Regions from separate parts of the Homo sapiens genome. Here regions 1 and 2 are each linked to region 3. Evidence: fine-mapped expression QTL. A gene starts in region 3. Each other region holds a variant in brackets. All regions are shown on one strand. Distances are from middle to middle.

Region 1 (2,757 bases), 470 kb after region 3:
GCCCAGCTAGTAGGAGGCCCAGACCCACTCTTCAAGGGAGGCAAGCTGTGACCAAGAAGCTCCACTGTGTTTCCTCAGGGGACCCTCCCCTTCCACACAGGTGGGAGCTTGACTGCTTACGCTGTTGGCAATATTCCCCAGTCCAACCGGGCAGGCAGGACAAGTTGCCATCTGGCTGGCACACATAGTGGCCGAAGTGGTCATTGCGCTTCTTGCACAGGCGGGAGCAGTTGTCTCCATAGTAGTTGTCACTGCAGATGACCCGGTAAGAGTAGCGCAGCCTTGTGAGGGTGCTGGTTTGCTCATCCAATAACCAGTTCTGACCCACAGCTAGGGAGCCCTGGATGGCGATCTTGCTGATGAGTGCATCTGGTGGCAAGGCCTCTGAGGGGGCAGAGGGTCGGGTCAGGGAAGGGTCGCCAGTCCCCAAGGGTGCCAGTGACGGCTGGCCAATGTCCTTCTTGGCTGTGATGATGGTGATCAGCCAACCAATCAGCCCAGTTATCCAGATGACCCCCGCCTGCCAGCAAGAACAGGCCAGAGGGACCCAAAGCCCCGCTACGTAGCTGCCCTACGTGTGTGCATGTGCAGGGGGCCTGATAGTATTCAAAAAGGGGACAATAGAAGGATGTTAAGATATCCCAGGGTCTTGGAGGCAGATAGGGAGGGGAAAGAGGAAAAGAGGTCAAAATGGAAAAAAGAGAAAAAGAAAGAAAAGCTCCCCAGGCTAGAGAGGACCCTGGGAGCAGGGGGTCCTTTGGTGCCCATTCAGGGGTTCTGCCTCCAGAGGTGGGTAATGGTTTTCTTTTTTCCTTTTCAAAGTGAGAATTGTTGTGCTGCTGAAATATCCTTTTCCTCTGTGTCAGAACAACATCCCAAAGCCATTATTCCCTTTCCAAAGGAGCGGAATTCGCGAAAGGTGTAAAATACAGGAAGGGGCCCGTCAGCGGCGCTGGCAGCTTCAGCCTTTCTCACCGCCGTACTCCCCGCGTTCCCACGCCAAAAATAACCCGCAGGAAACGCAATTGTGCTCTGAGTCCAGGCAGCGAGCGGAATCCGAGCGTCCAGCGCGGGGCGCAGCTCCAGGCCAAGCTAAGCGTCCTGCCTCCCACCCCCAAGCCCGCACTTCCCCCGCCTAGAACAGATTAACTCTTTCGGCGCTGCGCCGTGTCGCCCCCCTGTGGTGGCGGAGCGAGCTACTCACCTGGCCGCAGGTCGTCTCCTGGCGCGTGCCAAGCTTCGATGATGAGCGAGAAGGTACCCTGGGAAAGGGGGTGGGGGGACGGAGAGATGGCGAGATGAGCAAGCGGGGAGAGGTGGGGGTGCCTTGCGGCAGCCTGTTTAATTAATCTAATTGCAGGATTCAGTTACTGCGCCCGGGTCAACATAACGGGGCTGTGCACAGTGTAGCGCTTGAGCAGGGAAGGCGAGAGGAGAACCCCCGGTAGAGGGAGGGTTGAGAGACGGGAGAGTGTAAGGGAGAGCCACTGGAGGAGGGGGTGGTAGGGTACCGCCCCAGAGTGGTAGGTAATGAAAATCGTGTCCCAAGAGCTGGGGACGGGAGGACATAAACTGGGAAGACGGAGACTGGTGAGAG[C/G]CTTTTCTGGGATCAGTCTCAGGAGAGAGTCGGGAAGAGCCAGGAAAGAATGCATCCTGGGCTTTTTGGGGGTGGGGGTGTGTGTACAAGGAAATCTGGGGAGGGGGCTTTGGTCCCAGGGCGCCTCCTCTCTCGGCTTCTGCGACCTCCCAGTGCGCCCAGGCTGTGCTCACCGGCCAGGTGAAATTGAAGGGCAGTTGGAGAGGGTTGCGCCCCCCGCCGCTACTGTCGTCCCGGACAGCGAAGGAGTTGGTGCCCAATACCGGCGTGGAGACGGTCCCGAAGGTGCAGGGTCCGGGCGAGACGACCGCCTGGAAGTGCTTAAGGCAGACGCGGAAGAAAGTCCGGCAGCCGGGCTCGCAAGGCCGCCCACTGGCCAGTACGCCGCGCTCGTTGATGAACTCCTGCAGCTGCAGCTGGAAGACGCCGGAGCCGGCCGCGCGCTATTGCACAGGGACCGAGGGAAGGAGGGAGGGGACCGGTCAGCTCAGCTGGTGCCCGGGGCTGAGGCCCAGAGCGCGGCAGAGGGGACGGAGAGGGCGCGGGACGTGTTACCTGCTGCCAAAGTGCCACCAGCAGCAGTAGCGCCCAGCCAGAGGCGCTCCGGGACGCTGCCGCCATCCCCTCGGGCGTCGCTCTCTCCACCCGCGGGCCCTCAATCTGGCTCTGTTCGCGACGCCGCTTTCCCGCGCGTCCGCCAGCCGGCGGGGTCCCTGAAAAGAGGCGCTCCTCTCGGGACGCTGCTCCCCTTTGGCCTTCTCGCTGGCTCCGCTGCAGCTGCCGCTGTAGGTAATCCAGGTGACTACGGCTGGGCGGCGACCGCGCCGAGGACGCGTCTTCTGTCTAATCCTGGGGCTGCAAGCGGGCTAGTGCCGGTGTACGCTGCACCAAGGCGGCTGGGGCTGCGGCTCTTGGCCTCGTGTTCCCGGCCTGCGCGCAGCGCCGCTACTGAAACCTGCGCGCTGGGGGCCTTCCTTATATATATTGGCTCCTCTCCTCGCCGCCTGTCACTCAGACTCATGGTCATTCTCCCCTCCCCTCCCGGCCTCTAGCTGCTACAGTCCCAGCGCCGCCCGGAGGGGGCCTCCGCCCCCGCCGCTCCCCCCTCCCCGTCAGCCAGTCGGGCGCAGGTCCCCGCCCCTCCGTGCCGCTCCCAACCT
Region 2 (2,757 bases), 67 kb before region 3:
CCTGCCACTGCACTCCAGCCTGGGCGACAGAGCGAGACTCCGTCTCAAAAAAAAAAAAAAAAAAAAAAAAAAGAAAATGAATGAAAGCTCCAGGCCAATCTGAGAATGACACGAAGTCAGTTCCTACCTTCCAGGCCCAGGTGAAATGTCTAAGCGTACAGGCTAGCAGCCAAATGAATGGGCTGACGTGCTGGGGAACTCAGTTCAGCAAACCAAAGGTAACCATGTCAGAGTTAGTGGCCCAACCAGGGAGATTTTGGAAACGATACCAAGCTCTTCCTCAAAAACCCACCTATCCTGCCTACTAGACCAAAATGTACAAGAGCTTACTCCTCTTCTTCATCAGACGATGATGTTCGTGATGAGCGGTCTGACTTTTCACTGGATTTGTCATCCTCTTCCTCCTCTTCATCATCAGAGTAGACCTCACTGGTTTTTAATGGCTGTTTTTTGGCAAGGAGCTCAGCTAGAAAGAAAGAAGAGATGTTTACCTAGGTTTTCTCAACAAGAAAATGAATTCATCCTTGAAAAAGAACTGGAAATGGAAGAGGACTCAAATACACAGCTCCGTCCTCTCTAGACTGGATTGTGCTAACTTGGGGTATATACAGAAATGAGTTAAAACACAGAGTTAAAATTATTCAGGTGCCAAATGTCAGGCCCCAGCAGATGAAAAAAGGGCTGGAAGATTGATACTAGGTGGGCAGAAAGGGTCACCAACACTACTGACAGTTCTCTTTTATGGCACTCAAGACACTTGACTATGGGGAGGAAAGAGGGGGAAAGACTCATGATGACTTCAGAAGCTTCTGAGGAAAATTTAAAATAGGAGAGTGGCTAAATCACCACTGGTACATCTACCAATGAACTACTATGCAGCTATAAAAAAGGAACGTGGGGACGGGTGCGGTGGCTTACGCCTGTAATCTCAGCACTTTGGGAGGCAGAGGCAGGTGGATCACTTGAGGTCAGGAGTTCGAGACCAGCTTGGTCAACATGGTGAAACTCTGTCTCTACTAAAATACAAAAATTAGCCAGGCATTGTGGCCGGCACCTGTTATCCCAGCTACTTGGGAGGCTGAGGCAGGAGAATCGCTTGAACCCGGGAGGC[G/A]GAGGTTGCAGTGAGCCAAGACTGTATACCACTGCACTCCAGCCTGGGCAACAGAGCGAGACTCCATCTCAAAAAAAAAAAAAGGAACGTGGCCAGGCATGGTGACTCATGCCTGTAATCCCAGCACTTTGGGAGGTCGAGGTGGGTAGATCACTTGAGCTCAGGGGTTTGGGACCAGCCTGGGCAACATGGTGAATCTGCATCTCTACCAAAAATACAAAAAACAAACCAGGAGTGGTGGCTAAAAAAAAAAGAGAGAGAAAACTGTGTATAATATGCTACCATTAATCTAAGATGGCAGGTTAATCTGTGTACTTACGATTTAAAAAGAAAAAAGAATAATATAAAAAAATTTTAGGCTGGGAGTGTTGGCTCATGCACTTTGGGAGGCCAAGGCAAGGCGGATCACTTAAGGTCAGGAGTTCAAGACCACCCTGGCCAACATGGCTAAACCCCATCTCTACTAAAAATACAAAACAAAATTAGGTGGTGGTGCACGCATGTAGTCTCAGCTACTCAAGAGGCTGAGGTGGGAGAATCGCTTGAACCCGGGAGGTGAAGGTTGCAATGAGCCGAGATCGCGCCACTGCACTCCAGACTGAGTAACAGAGAGAGATCCTGTCTCAAAAAAGAGAGAGAGAAAAAGATGGATGGAAGGAAGGAAAAATAACTGCAATGGATTAAAACACATAAAGCACGTTAAAAATGATGAGTTCACAAGGATATTCAAAATAAATAAAACCCATCAGTCATCTTTGGAAGTTGCTAAAAACTATCTCTCTCTCTCTCTTTAAAATATTGCAGAAACAGGGTCTCACTATGTTGCCCAGGCTGGTCTTGAATTACACATGTGAGCCACTGTACCTTGCCAGGAACTATCTCATTCTTTCAAAAACTGGTAAACGAAAGGAAAATTAATCAAGCATTTATCTTGCCTTTCCTGTTCAAAATGTGCCTGGGGGGTAACTAAATAGCTGATTAGAAGTTTCTCTTTAGGCCGGGTGCGGTGGCTCACACCTGTAATCCCAGCACTTTGGGAGGCCGAGGCGGGCGGATCACAAGGTCAGGAGATCAAGACCATCCTGGCTAACATGGTGAAACCCCTTCTCTACTAAAAATACAAAAAATTAGCTGGGCGTGGTGGCAGGTGCCTGTAGTCCCAGCTACTCAGGAGGCTGAGGCAGGAGAATGGTGTGAACCCAGGAGGCGGAGCTTGCAGTGAGCCGAGATCGCGCCACTGCACTCCAACCTGGGCGACAGAGCGAGACTCCGTCTCAAAAAAAAAAGGTTTCTCTTTATAGAAGCAGGCTAGATAATGAATGAGGAAAGAATGACAGATTCGAAATATCACCATTTTGCAACTCCTAATGAATTAAATTATCTAGGTAATGACCATCAGTGGCTACTAGGACAGAACACGTTATTATTTCTTTTTCTTTTTTTTTGAGACAGAGTCTCACTCTTGTTGCCCAGGCTGGAGTGCAATGGTAGGATCTTGGCTCACTGCAACCTCCACCTCCCGGGTTCAAGTGATTTTCAGTGCCTCAGCCCCACAAGTAGCTGGGATTACAGGCATGTGCTACCACGCCTGACTAATTTTTGTACTTTTAGTAGAGACGGGATTTCACTCTGTTGGCCAGGCTGGT
Region 3 (2,757 bases):
AAGGAGAAAACATGGAAAGGGCTAGTGTATTTAGTGAGCTCCTTCGGAACCTTAGAGAACAAAGGTGTTACGGAACTATATGCTCTCAAATTCACACTAAGCACTAAATTCCCGCCGCTATGGTACATTCTGGGGAAAGGAAAAACAGCGCAGTCTGGACCCAAGAAAGCTCACAGCGTGGCAAAGGAAGTGAGAAGTGAGTGAAAGATACAATGTTGATTCTGTCTTCCCTGGCAGTAAGAAAAAAAAACAAAAACAAACAATGTTTAAGTGCTTTGGCCGGGCATGGTGGCTCACGCCTGTAATACCAGCACTTTGGGAGGCCGAGGTGGGTGGATCATGAGGTCAGGATTTCGAGACCAGCCTGGCCAACATGGCGAAACCCCATCTCTACTAAAAATACAAAAATTATCCGGGTGTGGTGGCACACACCTGTAATCCCAGCTACTTGGGAGGCTGAGGCAGGAGAATTGCTCCAACCCAGGAGTCGGAGGTTGCAGATCGCGCCACTGCACTACAGCCTGGGCAACAGAGTGAGACTCCGTCTCAAAAAAAAAAAGTGCTTTAAGAGAGGTGTGCACAAGGTACAAACAGATGCCCTGAGCAACTGGCGACCGTGTGGGGCGAGACTCGGGAAGGGCTGGTAGGAGGGGCTGCTGTCCAGGTGCGTGGTGGTCCTCAAGAATTCATGGGGGCAATTCCAGCAGAATCGGCCTTTTGAGGCCTCAGGCAGTTCTTGTGGGGACCGAGGCGACAGATAAGGAAGGAAGGGATACAGGCGCGTTAGCAATAACTGGGTTCTATTTGAAAGACGCAGGGGGCCGGGCTTGGTGGCTCGCGCCTGTAATCTCAGCACTTTGGGAGGCCGAGGCGGGTGGATCACGAGGTCAGGAGATCGAGATCATCCCGGCTAACATGGTGAAACCCCGTCTCTACTAAAAATACAAAAATTAGTCGGGCATGATGGCGCGCACCTGTAATCCCAGCTACTCGGGAGGCTGAGGCAGGAGAATCGCTTGAATCTGGGAGGCAGAGGTTGTAGTGAGCCGAGATCGCGCCACTGCACTCCAGCCTGGGCGACAGAGCGAGAATCCGTCTCAAAAAAAAAAAAAAAAAAAAAGACGCAGGGATGGAGTTTGCCGCCTGAAAGGATACAGGAAGGAGAGGCGAAAAACTTATCTGAATTCTCACTGCTTCCTTACAACTGGCGACCAAGTGGACCAAAAACCTCCAAAAACCTCAGTTGGCTGGGCTACGGGGTCCTTGCTGTCCTTCCTGGGCTTCTGTACTCGGCCGGAACTTTGGTGTTCTGACGCCTTGTTTGGCATCGGAAGGGAAAAGCAGATGGACCTATACGGGTAAAGTGGCTTCTGGGCGGAAGGTACACTATAGGCTCGGGGAGGTAAGCGGCGGCAGGCCGGCGGTTGGTGTGTCCCGGGTGTGGGGAGGCGACAGAGCCCTGGCACTTGAGGGTTGAGGGGGCCTCCCCAGCGCGGCGAACCGTCTAGCCTCCGGAGGCCAGGCCGTGAGTGCGGGAGGTATACGCCAAGGCGGAAGAATTTTGCCACTCACTACCTGTGTGACCTCGGGTAAATTAGCCTTGGAACGTCAGTTTCTTCGTCTCTATAATTGAAATAATAATAGTACCTCTCTCAGGATTGTTGTGAGCCGTCAGTGAAACACTTAGAGCAGTTTCTGGCACATGGTAAGGCATGGATAGCTTTACTAATTCTACTCACTTCTAGCTGCGTGGATTGTGTTGTCAAAACCCACCGTCAACCTCAGGGCGGTATTGTCCAGTTAATAGTTTAGATTTTCTGTTTACTGGTAGAAAAAAAAAAATGAAACAAAGCATTTATAATTAAAGTTATATTATTAGAGAAGTAACACTACGGAGGGTTTGGAAAACATTTTATGAGCTATCATTTGTTTCTCAAATTTCGGTATGTGTAGAGGTAAAATCATTTAAGTGCAACCGGCGCGGGGGAATTTAAATATTATCCATAATTCCGGGACCTCAGATCAACTGTTAATTTTTCCTGGTTCCCTTAACGTTTATAATACATGTGAAAACATACTGTTTACATGGTTTTGATTTATCAACAAACCTTATTGATAATGTCGGCTGGGCGCGGTGGCTCACGCCTGTAATCCCAGCACTTTGGGAGGCCGAGGCGGGCGGATCACTTGAGGTCAGGAGTTCGAGACCAGCCTGGCCAACATGGTGAAACCCTGTCTCTACTAAAAATACAAAAATTAGCTGGGCGTGGTGGCGCACGCCTGTAATCCCAGTGACTGAGGCAAGAGAATTGCTTGAAACCAGGAGGTGGAGGTTACAATGAGCCGAGATCGCACAACTGCACTCCAACTTGGGGGACAGAGCTGGACTCTGTCTTAAAAAAAAAAAAAAAAAAGTTGGGCATGGTGGCGGGCACCTGTAATTTCAGCCACTCGGGAGGCAGAGGCAGGAGAAGCACTTGAACCCGGGAGGCGGAGGTTGCAGTGAGCCAGGGTCGTGCCATTGCACTCCAGCCTGGGTGACAGAGCGAGACTCCATCTCAAAAAAAAAAAAAAAAAAAAAGGTTGGGCGCCGTGGCTGACGCCTGTAATCCCAGTACTTTAGGAGGCCCATGTAGGCGGATCACCTGAGGTCAGGAGTTCGAGACCACTCTGGCCAACATAGTGGAACCTCATCTCTACTGAAAAAACAAAAACAAAAACAAAAATTAGCCGGGCATGGTGGCGCCCGCCTGTAAT

What was found. PIP is the estimated chance that this variant, and not a neighbour inherited with it, causes the effect.
Region 1: its variant is fine-mapped to the expression of NDUFAF1 in anterior cingulate cortex (GTEx, PIP 0.97).
Region 2: its variant is fine-mapped to the expression of NDUFAF1 in whole blood (INTERVAL, PIP above 0.99).

What each region holds. Positions count from the first base shown.
Region 1 is chr15:40,929,130-40,931,886 of GRCh38, reverse strand. DLL4 (delta like canonical Notch ligand 4) reads right to left here and starts at 2,547. Exons shown (of 11, transcript NM_019074.4): 1 at 2,153-2,547; 2 at 1,771-2,040; 3 at 1,205-1,262; 4 at 121-384. The coding sequence starts at 2,218. RefSeq lists a silencer at 2,653-2,742. The variant C/G (reference allele first, on the strand shown) is at 1,598.
Region 2 is chr15:41,467,966-41,470,722 of GRCh38, reverse strand. It overlaps RTF1 (RTF1 homolog, Paf1/RNA polymerase II complex component), which reads right to left. Exons shown (of 18, transcript NM_015138.5): 7 at 331-466. Among named protein-coding and RNA genes, the nearest start is that of ITPKA, 25 kb to the left of the region's middle. The variant G/A (reference allele first, on the strand shown) is at 1,112.
Region 3 is chr15:41,401,092-41,403,848 of GRCh38, reverse strand. NDUFAF1 (NADH:ubiquinone oxidoreductase complex assembly factor 1) reads left to right here and starts at 1,353. Exons shown (of 5, transcript NM_016013.4): 1 at 1,353-1,705.